Linked DNA regions of Homo sapiens: all the other regions are reported to be linked to region 1. The links are microRNA targets in miRTarBase. Many come from high-throughput screens and were not tested one by one. Region 1 holds a microRNA gene; each other region holds the end of a gene's coding sequence.
Evidence for each region. Region 1 holds the annotated microRNA hsa-miR-181d-5p (AACAUUCAUUGUUGUCGGUGGGU, at 1,373-1,395, shown strand). A microRNA usually pairs through its seed, bases 2 to 8, with sites in the 3' UTR of a target mRNA and lowers its output. Matches are read on the target gene's strand: a 7mer-m8 pairs with bases 2 to 8, a 7mer-A1 pairs with bases 2 to 7 and ends in A, and an 8mer does both.

Region 2: the mRNA of ZNF107 is a reported target of hsa-miR-181d-5p. Seed matches in the 3' UTR shown: 7mer-A1 at 3,119-3,125.
Region 3: miRTarBase lists HNRNPH1 as a target of hsa-miR-181d-5p. Seed matches in the 3' UTR shown: 7mer-A1 at 1,913-1,919.

What each region holds. Positions count from the first base shown.
Region 1 is chr19:13,873,538-13,876,692 of GRCh38, forward strand. MIR181D (microRNA 181d) reads left to right here and starts at 1,338; the gene lies at 1,338-1,474. MIR181C (microRNA 181c) reads left to right here and starts at 1,162; the gene lies at 1,162-1,271. It also overlaps a transcript of NANOS3 not described here.
Region 2 is chr7:64,708,352-64,711,506 of GRCh38, forward strand. It overlaps ZNF107 (zinc finger protein 107), which reads left to right. Exons shown (of 4, transcript NM_001282359.2): 4 at 1-3,155. The coding sequence ends at 305. Among named protein-coding and RNA genes, the nearest start is that of MIR6839, 31 kb to the left of the region's middle.
Region 3 is chr5:179,612,930-179,616,084 of GRCh38, forward strand. It overlaps HNRNPH1 (heterogeneous nuclear ribonucleoprotein H1), which reads right to left. Exons shown (of 14, transcript NM_001257293.2): 13 at 2,617-2,666; 14 at 1,249-2,030. The coding sequence ends at 2,617. The region is part of intron 4 of LOC128966623 (a long non-coding RNA gene); the gene reads left to right. Among named protein-coding and RNA genes, the nearest start is that of HNRNPH1, 9.2 kb to the right of the region's middle. RefSeq lists an enhancer at 899-958.

The DNA.
Region 1 (3,155 bases):
GGCTCACTGCAGCCTCGAGCCTCGAACTCTTGGGGTCCAAGCGATCCTCCCATCTCAGCCTCCTAAGTAGCTAAGACTACAGGCTCACTACACCACACCCAGCTAATTTTTTTGTAGGGACAGGTATCTCGCTATGTTGCTCAGGTTGGTCTCCATCTCCTGGGCTCAAAAGATCCTCCCGCCTCAGCCTCCCAAAATACTGAATTACAGGCCTGAGCCGCAGCACCCGGCCATGCCGGGTGCACCTTCCTAGGCCGTCCGCAGACCCAGGTCAGGGGCGAAGGCGCGCTCGCCCATCCCTGGTCGTCACTGCTTGGCTTGCGGGGGGTGGGAGATAGGGGTGCGTACCTGTAGGCCTGGGGGCACCCGGGGCGGGGGGGTGGTCGCCGAACTCTGTGCGATCACTGGAGGAAGGGACTGGGGGTCATTTGAGGGATGAGGAAATGGAGAGGGGGCGCCGCAGCCGGTTTTGAGGCCCAAGGGGCAGCCCCCACGTGGCTGCGCGGACTCCCTCCGGAAGTGCCCGAGTTCAGATGCTGTGTGACCGCGCACGCGGGGCGAGCGGCGCCCTCTCTGAACCTCCTGCCTCTCCCCTGTCTAGTGGGGCCCCAGTGCACTTGTAAAGTGGAGAGACCTGACGACCCCCCACCCCCAAGCGCTCCACTCACGCTGTTGTGATTCCTAAACCATCGTGCCCGGAACTCAGTGAAGCTCCCAGAACGTATTACATTGTATTAAAATGGCTTGTTTATCTCCACGTTGCATCAATGCCCTCGGGGCCAGGATCCTCCGTTGCCAGACTTCCCGGGAACACTTGGAATGCCTCCTCCACCTCGGACTAGCAGTGGCCTTTGGCCTCAGTCTCCCCAGTTGACAAAGGGGGGTAATCTGCACCTCCAGGATCACTTTGTGAATTACTTAAGGAGCGGGCTTGAGGCCAGCACTCCCCTGCACTGCTACATCTCCATCCCCATAGCAAAGGCTACATTTTATTTACTAGCATTTATATTTGCCTTGTGTTTTTCCCAGATCTAGGTGCAAACAGCACCTGAAAAGCGTTTGTTTATTTCATGAGAGAAAAGGGGTTCCTTACTCTCTCCTCCTCTCCCTCTTCATGCTCTCTGGTTCCCTGCCACCTACCCCACCCCCGACTCCAGGTCCCGGAAAATTTGCCAAGGGTTTGGGGGAACATTCAACCTGTCGGTGAGTTTGGGCAGCTCAGGCAAACCATCGACCGTTGAGTGGACCCTGAGGCCTGGAATTGCCATCCTCCTGCCGGTGACTCTGACCTTCCAGATCTAGGGGGGCCTGGGGAGCCCCCAATCCAGCCTGGGCACGTCCCCTCCCCTAGGCCACAGCCGAGGTCACAATCAACATTCATTGTTGTCGGTGGGTTGTGAGGACTGAGGCCAGACCCACCGGGGGATGAATGTCACTGTGGCTGGGCCAGACACGGCTTAAGGGGAATGGGGACTGGGGACAGGACCCCCCACCGCCACAGTCACTCAGCCTGTTTTTTGCCCTGACCCCAACCACTCCTCTTTGGAGAGGAGAGCTGGTGTCTGGAATCTGGATGGGCTCTGGCTGGATTTGGGACTAAATATTAGAGGGTTGGGGGTAAACAGGCTGGGGCAGGGCAGCTAAAATCCCCTTTTTTTTTTTTTTTTAAGACAGAGTCTCACTCTGTTGCCTAGGCTGGAGTGCAGTGGCCCAATCTCAGCTCACTGCAACCTCTGCCTCCAGGGTTTGAGTGATTCTCTGGCCTCAGCCTCCCAAGTAGCTGGGATTACAGGCATCTGCCACCACAGTGGGCTAATTTTTGTATTTTTAGTAGAGACGAGATTTCACTGTGTTGGCCAGGCTGGTCTCAAACTCCTGACCTCAAGTAATCCTCCCCCCTCGGCCTCCCAAAGTGCTGGGATTACAGGCATGAGCCACTTTGCCTGGCCTAAAACCCCTTTCTGAAATGTGGGTGGTAAGTTCTGCTCCGTGGAGTGCTCCATAGTTTTGTTTTTTAAATTAGAGACAGGATCTCGCTCTTGTCACCCAGGCTGGAGTGCAATGGTGTGACCTTAGCTCACTGCAGCCTCTAATAACTGGAGTCAAGCGTTGATCCTCCCGCCTCAGCCTCCCCAGTAGCCGGAACCACGGGCACGCACCACCACACCTAGCTTATTTCGAAAAAGTGTTTTTGTAGGAACAGGGTCTCAAAACGTTGCCCAGGCTGGTCTCCAACTCCTAGGTTCAAGCAATCCTCCTCGGCCTCTCAAAATGAGCCACAGTGCCTGGCCAATAAAAGTTTCTTAAATGAATGGATGGGTGGATGAGCTGTGTAAGCGGCACAGCGTCTCTCCTCTGTGTCCAAGTCCTGAGCACACCCTCCCCTCCTGGGACTGAGCTGAGATCTCATCTCGGGGAGGACACTGAAGACCTGTAGGTACTAGGGGTCCCCTCCTAACAGCCCAACTTGCTATCCCCCACCTCCCAACTCCAGAGGGTTCTTTCTCACCCCTCTGCAGCCCCCGCCAGGAAAGGGCTCCCTCCCCAGCACCTAGCCTCAGGGGGCCCCAGTAACTAGAAGAAGGAGGCAGATGTGGTGCTTTTTGTTGTTGTTGTTTTGAGACAGAGTCTTACTCTGTTTCCCAGGCTGGAGTGCAGTGGCTTGATCTTGGCTCACCGCAACCTCTGCCTCCTGGGTTCAAGCAATTCTTCTGCCTCAGCCTCCTGAGTAGCTGGGATCACAGGCACCCGCCACCATGCCCAGCTAATTTTGTGTGTGTGTGTGTGTGTGTGTGTATTTTTAGTAGAGACAGGGTTTCACCATGTTAGCCAGGCTGGTCTCGAACTCTTGACCTCAGGTGATCCGCCTGTCTTGGCCTCCCAAACTGTTGGGATGACAGGCATGAGCCACCACTCCCTGGCCTGGTGCATGTCTTTATAAATAACTGGATGGGCAGGTGGCTTCACACCTCAGTTTGCTCATCCATTCAATGGGGGTTCCACTAAGACAACCGATGTGAAAACTCTTGGAGGGAGACCAGAGCTGGGGGCCGGGGGGCATGATCCTTCCCCCCTACCCCCGCAACCAGCCCATGAGCCTGGGACTACCACACTCCTTTCAGAGACAGCTGGAGCATCAGCAACCTCCCGCCTGG
Region 2 (3,155 bases), not on the chromosome of region 1:
AGAAAATTCATACTGGAGAGAAACCCTATAAATGTGAAGAATGTGGCAAAGCTTTTAACCAATCCTCAAACCTTACTACACATAAGAAAATTCATACTTCAGAGAAACCCTACAAATGTGAAGAATGTGGCAAATCCTTTAACCAGTTCTCATCTCTTAATATACATAAGATAATTCATACTGGAGAGAAACCCTACAAATGTGGAGATTATGGCAGAGCTTTCAACCTATCCTCAAATCTTACTACACATAAGAAAATTCATACTGGAGAGAAACCCTACAAATGTGAGTATGGCAAAACTTAATTGATCCTACAAGCTTACTACACATAGGAAAATTCATACTGGAGAGAAACTACAAATGTGAAGAATGTGTTAAAGCCTTTAACAAGTCTTCAACTTTTTCTGCACACACGAGGTATTTTATACTGGTGAGAAACCTTACAATGTAAAGAATGTGGCACAGCTTTTAACTAATCTTCAAACCTTACTGAAAGTTGAGAAAATTCGTACTGGAGAGAATCCTACAAATGTGAAAAATGTGGCAAATCCTTTAACTGATCCTCAACTTTTACTAAACATAAGGTAATTCATACTGGAGAAAAGCCATACAAATGAGAAGAATGTGGCAATGCCTTTAATCAGTCCTCACACCTTTCTACACATAAGATAATTTATACTGGAGAGGAACTCTATAGTTGTGAAGAATGTGGCAAAGCTTTTAACCAATCCTCATACCTTACTATACAGAAATTCATACTGGAGAGAAAGCCTACAATTGTGAAGAATGTGGCAAAGCTTTTAACCTTCCTTAACCCTTAACTGTAGATAAGAAAATTCATACTGGAAAGAAACCCTACAAATGTGAAGTCTGTGGCAAAGCTTTTAACTGATTCTCAACTCTTACTACATGTAAGAGTATTTATACTGGAAAGAAACCCTACAAATGTAAAAAACGTGGCAATGCCTTTAACTGGTCCTCACACCTTGCTACATATAAGACAGTTTATACTTTGAGAGAAACCCTGCAAATGTGAATAATGTGGCAATACTTTAAACCAATCCTCAAACCTCACTAAACATAAGATAATACTGAAAACTTTACAAACCTGAATGATGTGACAATAATTTTGACAACACCTCGAACTTTCTAACATAAATCATACTGGTGAAAAATCCTAGAAATGTGAAAAATATCACAAAGCCTTTAAATGGTTGTCACACTTGATTGTAGGTAAGAATCCATACTGAAGAAAACTCCTGGAAGTGTAAAAAATGTGGCAACACTTTTAATAAATGCTCACCCCTTATTGCACAGGAAAGCATTTATACTTCAGAAAGATTGTACAAATACAAGGAATGTGGAAAAGCCATTATTATCTGCTCAGATTTTACTCAACATTAGAGAGTTAGTACGTAATAAAAGCATTATAAATGCAATTTTTGTCAAGAGATCTTTCAGAAAATATAAGCCTTTAAAGTGAAGAAGAGGAGCCAGTTGTGCTGGCTCACATCTGTAATGCCAGCACTTTGGGAGGCCAAGGTGGGTGGATCACCTGAGGGCAGGAGTCTGAGACCAGCCTGGCCAACATAGCAAAACCCCATCTCTATTAAAAATTTTACAAAAATTAGCTGCGTGTGGTGGCAGGCCCCTGTAATCCCAGCTAATTGGGAGGCTGAAGCAGGAGAATTGCTCAAACCTGGGAGGCGAAGATTGCAGTGAGCTGAAATCACACCACTACACTCCAGCCAAAGCAACAAGAGCAAAAACTTCGTCTCAAAAACAAAACAAAAAAAGAGTATTCATTGTGAGGACAAACAATACAAATACGAAGAGGGTTGTAGTACCTTTACTTGTATCACAGATACTTTTGTACCCATTTTGCACTAGAGGAAAACCATGAAGCAGTTGCTCAAATGTTGTTCAACACCAGAAAATTTATATTGGAGAAAAGCACTGTAAATGTAATGCATTTGTGAAAACATTTTTTAAAAAACTACAGCTTAGAAAATACCAGAGGCCTCATACTAAAATATATTTTTGCAAGTGAAGTAAATATAAAAATAATTTAATCCAAAATTAAGTCTATATAAATATCAGAGAATTCACAGTAGAAATATCTAAGGTACTGACACTTCAGACATTGCTGAGTATAGAATCAGAATGCTGAGTATAGAAAATAATTTAAAACTAAAGTTGGTAGGTAAATAATGTGTATATAACTTTAAAAGAAGTAGAATTTTTTTGTAGATGTATAATTACATTCAAATTATATTTTTTCTTGAAAAATTAGTTTTTGAAAAGCAAATGATGTAATTCAACTCAAATTCATGCTCTTCATTCCTATTGTATTCACATGTGAAAGCATGTGATTAATTTTTCATGCATCAAAGATATGAGAAATCATTTCTGTTAGGTCGGTATTATTTATGACACTTTCTATGAAAGAATAAGGACATTAAAATGTAAGATGCATGATGAAAACCTGAGTGAAGAGGCTGTTTGTGTTTAACTTATAATATTGAGTGATCCATGAAGTAGGTTTTCAGAGCAATATTCTTCTGCATTATAGTAAGAGAAAACCATTTTTAATCTTAGTTAAAATTAAAGTGAATTAGTAGTATATCATTTTACTATTTGTACTTTTATGTAATAAAATGCAATGTGTTTAAAAATTTTTGGATTATGCGTGAACTTAGTTTTTTAATTAAACTTTTTTTAACATGTTAAAACTATTGTGCATTCAATGAAGTGTTTTCATGCCACTGACTTTACCTATCCCACATTACTCAAGGGTTTAGGTAAAAGAGGGTAACAGTATACTACTTGATAACATAATGGGCTAACATCTCTAATAATTATTTTTGCTAGTGACTTTAAACTGCTAATAAAGAATATTGTTCCCATAGGTTAGATTTTTATTCTTTTTAAAATTTAAACTTATTTCTCTTAATTTTTGTGGATACATAGTATGTGTATATCTTTATGCCATGTATGGCATATTTTGATACAGGCATATAATTTTATGTATTAATCACATCAGGGCAAAAGATGTATCCATCAACTCCAGCATTTCTCCTTTGTATTACAAACCAATTCTGCACTTTTAGATACTTTAGAATGTACAGTCGTTACTACAGGGTCATTTTATGGTT
Region 3 (3,155 bases), not on the chromosome of region 1:
CAAGCGATGTCCAGTTCCCAGCAATTTACTCAGAGATGGTACCATCAAGCCCCCATGTTTGTCCGGTAGATAACACCCAGAGCCCCCTCACCTGTCACTTTGTGATGAATTTGAAGCTCCTGCACCTGGAACTGTTTTCCTGTAACCATTTGTCTTTAACTTTTTTGTCTGTTTTTCTTCCCTAAGATGGCTGCAGCTAGAATCCCCCTCCCCTCTCCAAACCAAAGTATAAAAGAAAATCTAGCTCCTTCTTCGAGGCCGAGATACTTTCATGCGGTAGCCGTCTCTCGGTCGCCGGCTAATAAAGGACTCCTGAACTCGTCTCCAAGTGTGGCGTTTCTAACTCGCTCAGGTACACCACTTGGAAGCAGCTTGAATACTTGCTATCATCATGTTGGAGCTTCGAACTACCAAAACGTGATATATTTAAGAGTTCATTTAAACTTCTCATGTTAGCTCTCAATCTCTACCTATCGTTCTACCTTAGGAGACTTACATGGAATTTTGCTTCCAAGTGGAATTGATTTTTAGGAATGACCCAAAAATACAGAAGTTCAAAACTTCCATTTGAAAACCATCTGTGAAGGCTGGGCAATGGCTCCAGCCTATAATCCCAGCACTTTCAGAGGCCGAGGTGGGCAGATCTCATGAGGTCAGGAGTTGGAGACCAGCCTGGCCAACATCGTGAAACCCCGTGTCTACTAAACATACAAAAAAAATTAGCCTGGAGTGGTGGTGGGCGCCTGTAACCCCAACTACTTGGGAGGCTGAGGCAGAAGCCCACAAGGTGGAGGTTGCAGGTGAGCTGAGATCACGCCACTGCAATCCAGCCTGAGACAACAGAATATAACTCTGCCTCAAAAAAAAAAACAAACCTATGAGCTTATGAGCTAGAAGAAACCCACATATTCATCACACCTCCCTTGCCTCCGGCACCTTCCCAGCCAAGCATGAAGGCCTCAAAGACATGCAGGCATGCAGTGAGGGCACTGGCGCCTCCCCCTTTGTTTTGTGCAAGTGCTTAATGAGTTACAGGCAGTTCAGATCAGGTCCTGTGCAGCCAAATGACATACAGCCCTTCCACCAGGGCCCCAAAGACGAGTTTACCTTCAGTTGCACTGGAGGGAAGACTGAAGACATCTACGCAACAGCCTCAACTGCCAAGCCAGAGATGTGGCCCTAGGCCCCAGGTGGGCACAGAGCACCAAGACTCAGTCCACATGACACTGAAGCACAGACAAGACAGAGTGCAGTTTTTAAAAGGAGGATTTATTTGACAAGTTTCACTTAGCGCAATATACCTAAAAGGAAATCACAATACAATGAAAGATTTAAATCAAGGCCTCAGAATTTCATACAAACACCAAGACCAAAATCCTAAGTATTGGTATTGCGTCTCAAATTTTTCCCATTAACTTAAAAAAAAAAAAAGCTTAAACTTACGTGCCTTACAGGTTATTAAATGAAACTAGAATTAACAAACATGCCAAAATGTTTCACTTTTAATAGTAGACACAGCTCCTATATTGTTTTACAAAAAAATAAAAGCATGTCTTTCAACATGCATCCAAAACAGTGTTCAATTTAACGTGGCAAAGGGCAACATTTAACATAATTCAACTGCTTTTACCTAAATACGCTTACTGCTTAAGTACATCCTATAACTAACTTGAGAAAAGCTGGAACTTAAGTTTAACAGTTATAGTTTACTCAGCTTCACTGTTACATCCTAGATGAGTATTGTATTCAAAAATACTGGGCCTTAAGTCTTCATAACAATCCTGATTTCCACTTAGAGTAAGCATAAATCACAAGCTTGTATTGCAGAAACTGTTAAACTGAAGTTTTCTTAAAGAAAAAAAAAAAAAAAAAAAAAAGGTTGACCAAGAGTCAGTGATCAGGATCGATCAATTACATTCCCCATCCACCACTCATACTGGACATGCTAGACAACCCTCCCATTCCGTTCACGCCCATAGATGCACGGCTTCCACTACTGTAGTAGCTGCTGTTCACTGCTCCTTGGTTACCTGCAAAGAGATCAATTTGACAAGTTAGGAGTAATATCAGACTACCAGTCAAATAAAATATAGTATTCCAAGAAAAAGTTTAAAAAGTATACGAGTACAAATGGCTGCTGTCCAAGTGGCGAGACGCATGTTTGGGAAAGGGGAATCCCGACTCCAAACAAGCCTCAATTAACCCCTTTTCTCTGCAGTACCAACTTGCCAGACTCTTGTGCTACCATTTTAACGGATTCTTCAGGATCAACATGAAAAATTAAGTTTAAAGGAAAACTAGTGTTTTTCAAAAATTGCAAAATTACTTCGTATTTTTAAAGCTAAACAAGGCATTTTTAAAAAAAATTTAACATAAACATTCACAATGTGTCCCTCGAATGGCATTTGAGAAAAGGGAGCACAGGGGAAGTCTCTTGCTTTTCCTATTCATGGTGGGCAGGAAGTGAGACAACCAAGCTGGACTAAAGGCAACTCACTGTGCCCAAATGGCAGCCTCCATGGAGTTAAGTCAGAGCCATTGACTGCTATAGAAAGCATTATTACAACATATCAGTATTTGCTATTGGGAATTTATATTTTTTGAGAAAATATTTACCTATGCAATGTTTGATTGAAAATCACTGGAGTTTTCCTGTAAAACTTGGTCTGCAAAAGGATTTTGTAGGGTAAGACTATAATACCAAAATCACCATTCTTTAGACCAATTGAAAAAAAATAAATAAAACCAATCCTAGGTTAACTGACTAATAAATACGATCCTGAACCCAACCACCATTCTACTATTTCAAATTCTCCCTCTGTCTAAAACTGACTTAATGCTAACCAAAAGACAAAAAAGTGAACAACTTTATTTAATGTTTTAATACATGGAGGCAGATATTTTCTGGCTCGACAGTATTCCAAAGCTGCAATGACTAGTTCTTAATTCAAAGAACACTTCCCCCTCCCAATGATTGTTTCTGAAAATTAGCTAGTAAAAACAGTTACATTTGGATTGAAAGCATACATTTCATAACCCAATTTCACCGAAAGGAGCCTGCATCTTCCCAACTAAAGGCACCTGCCTGCGACTTACTCTAAGTACAGTAACAGGCTTTACCATAACTTACTCTAAGTACAGTAATGAACAGGCTT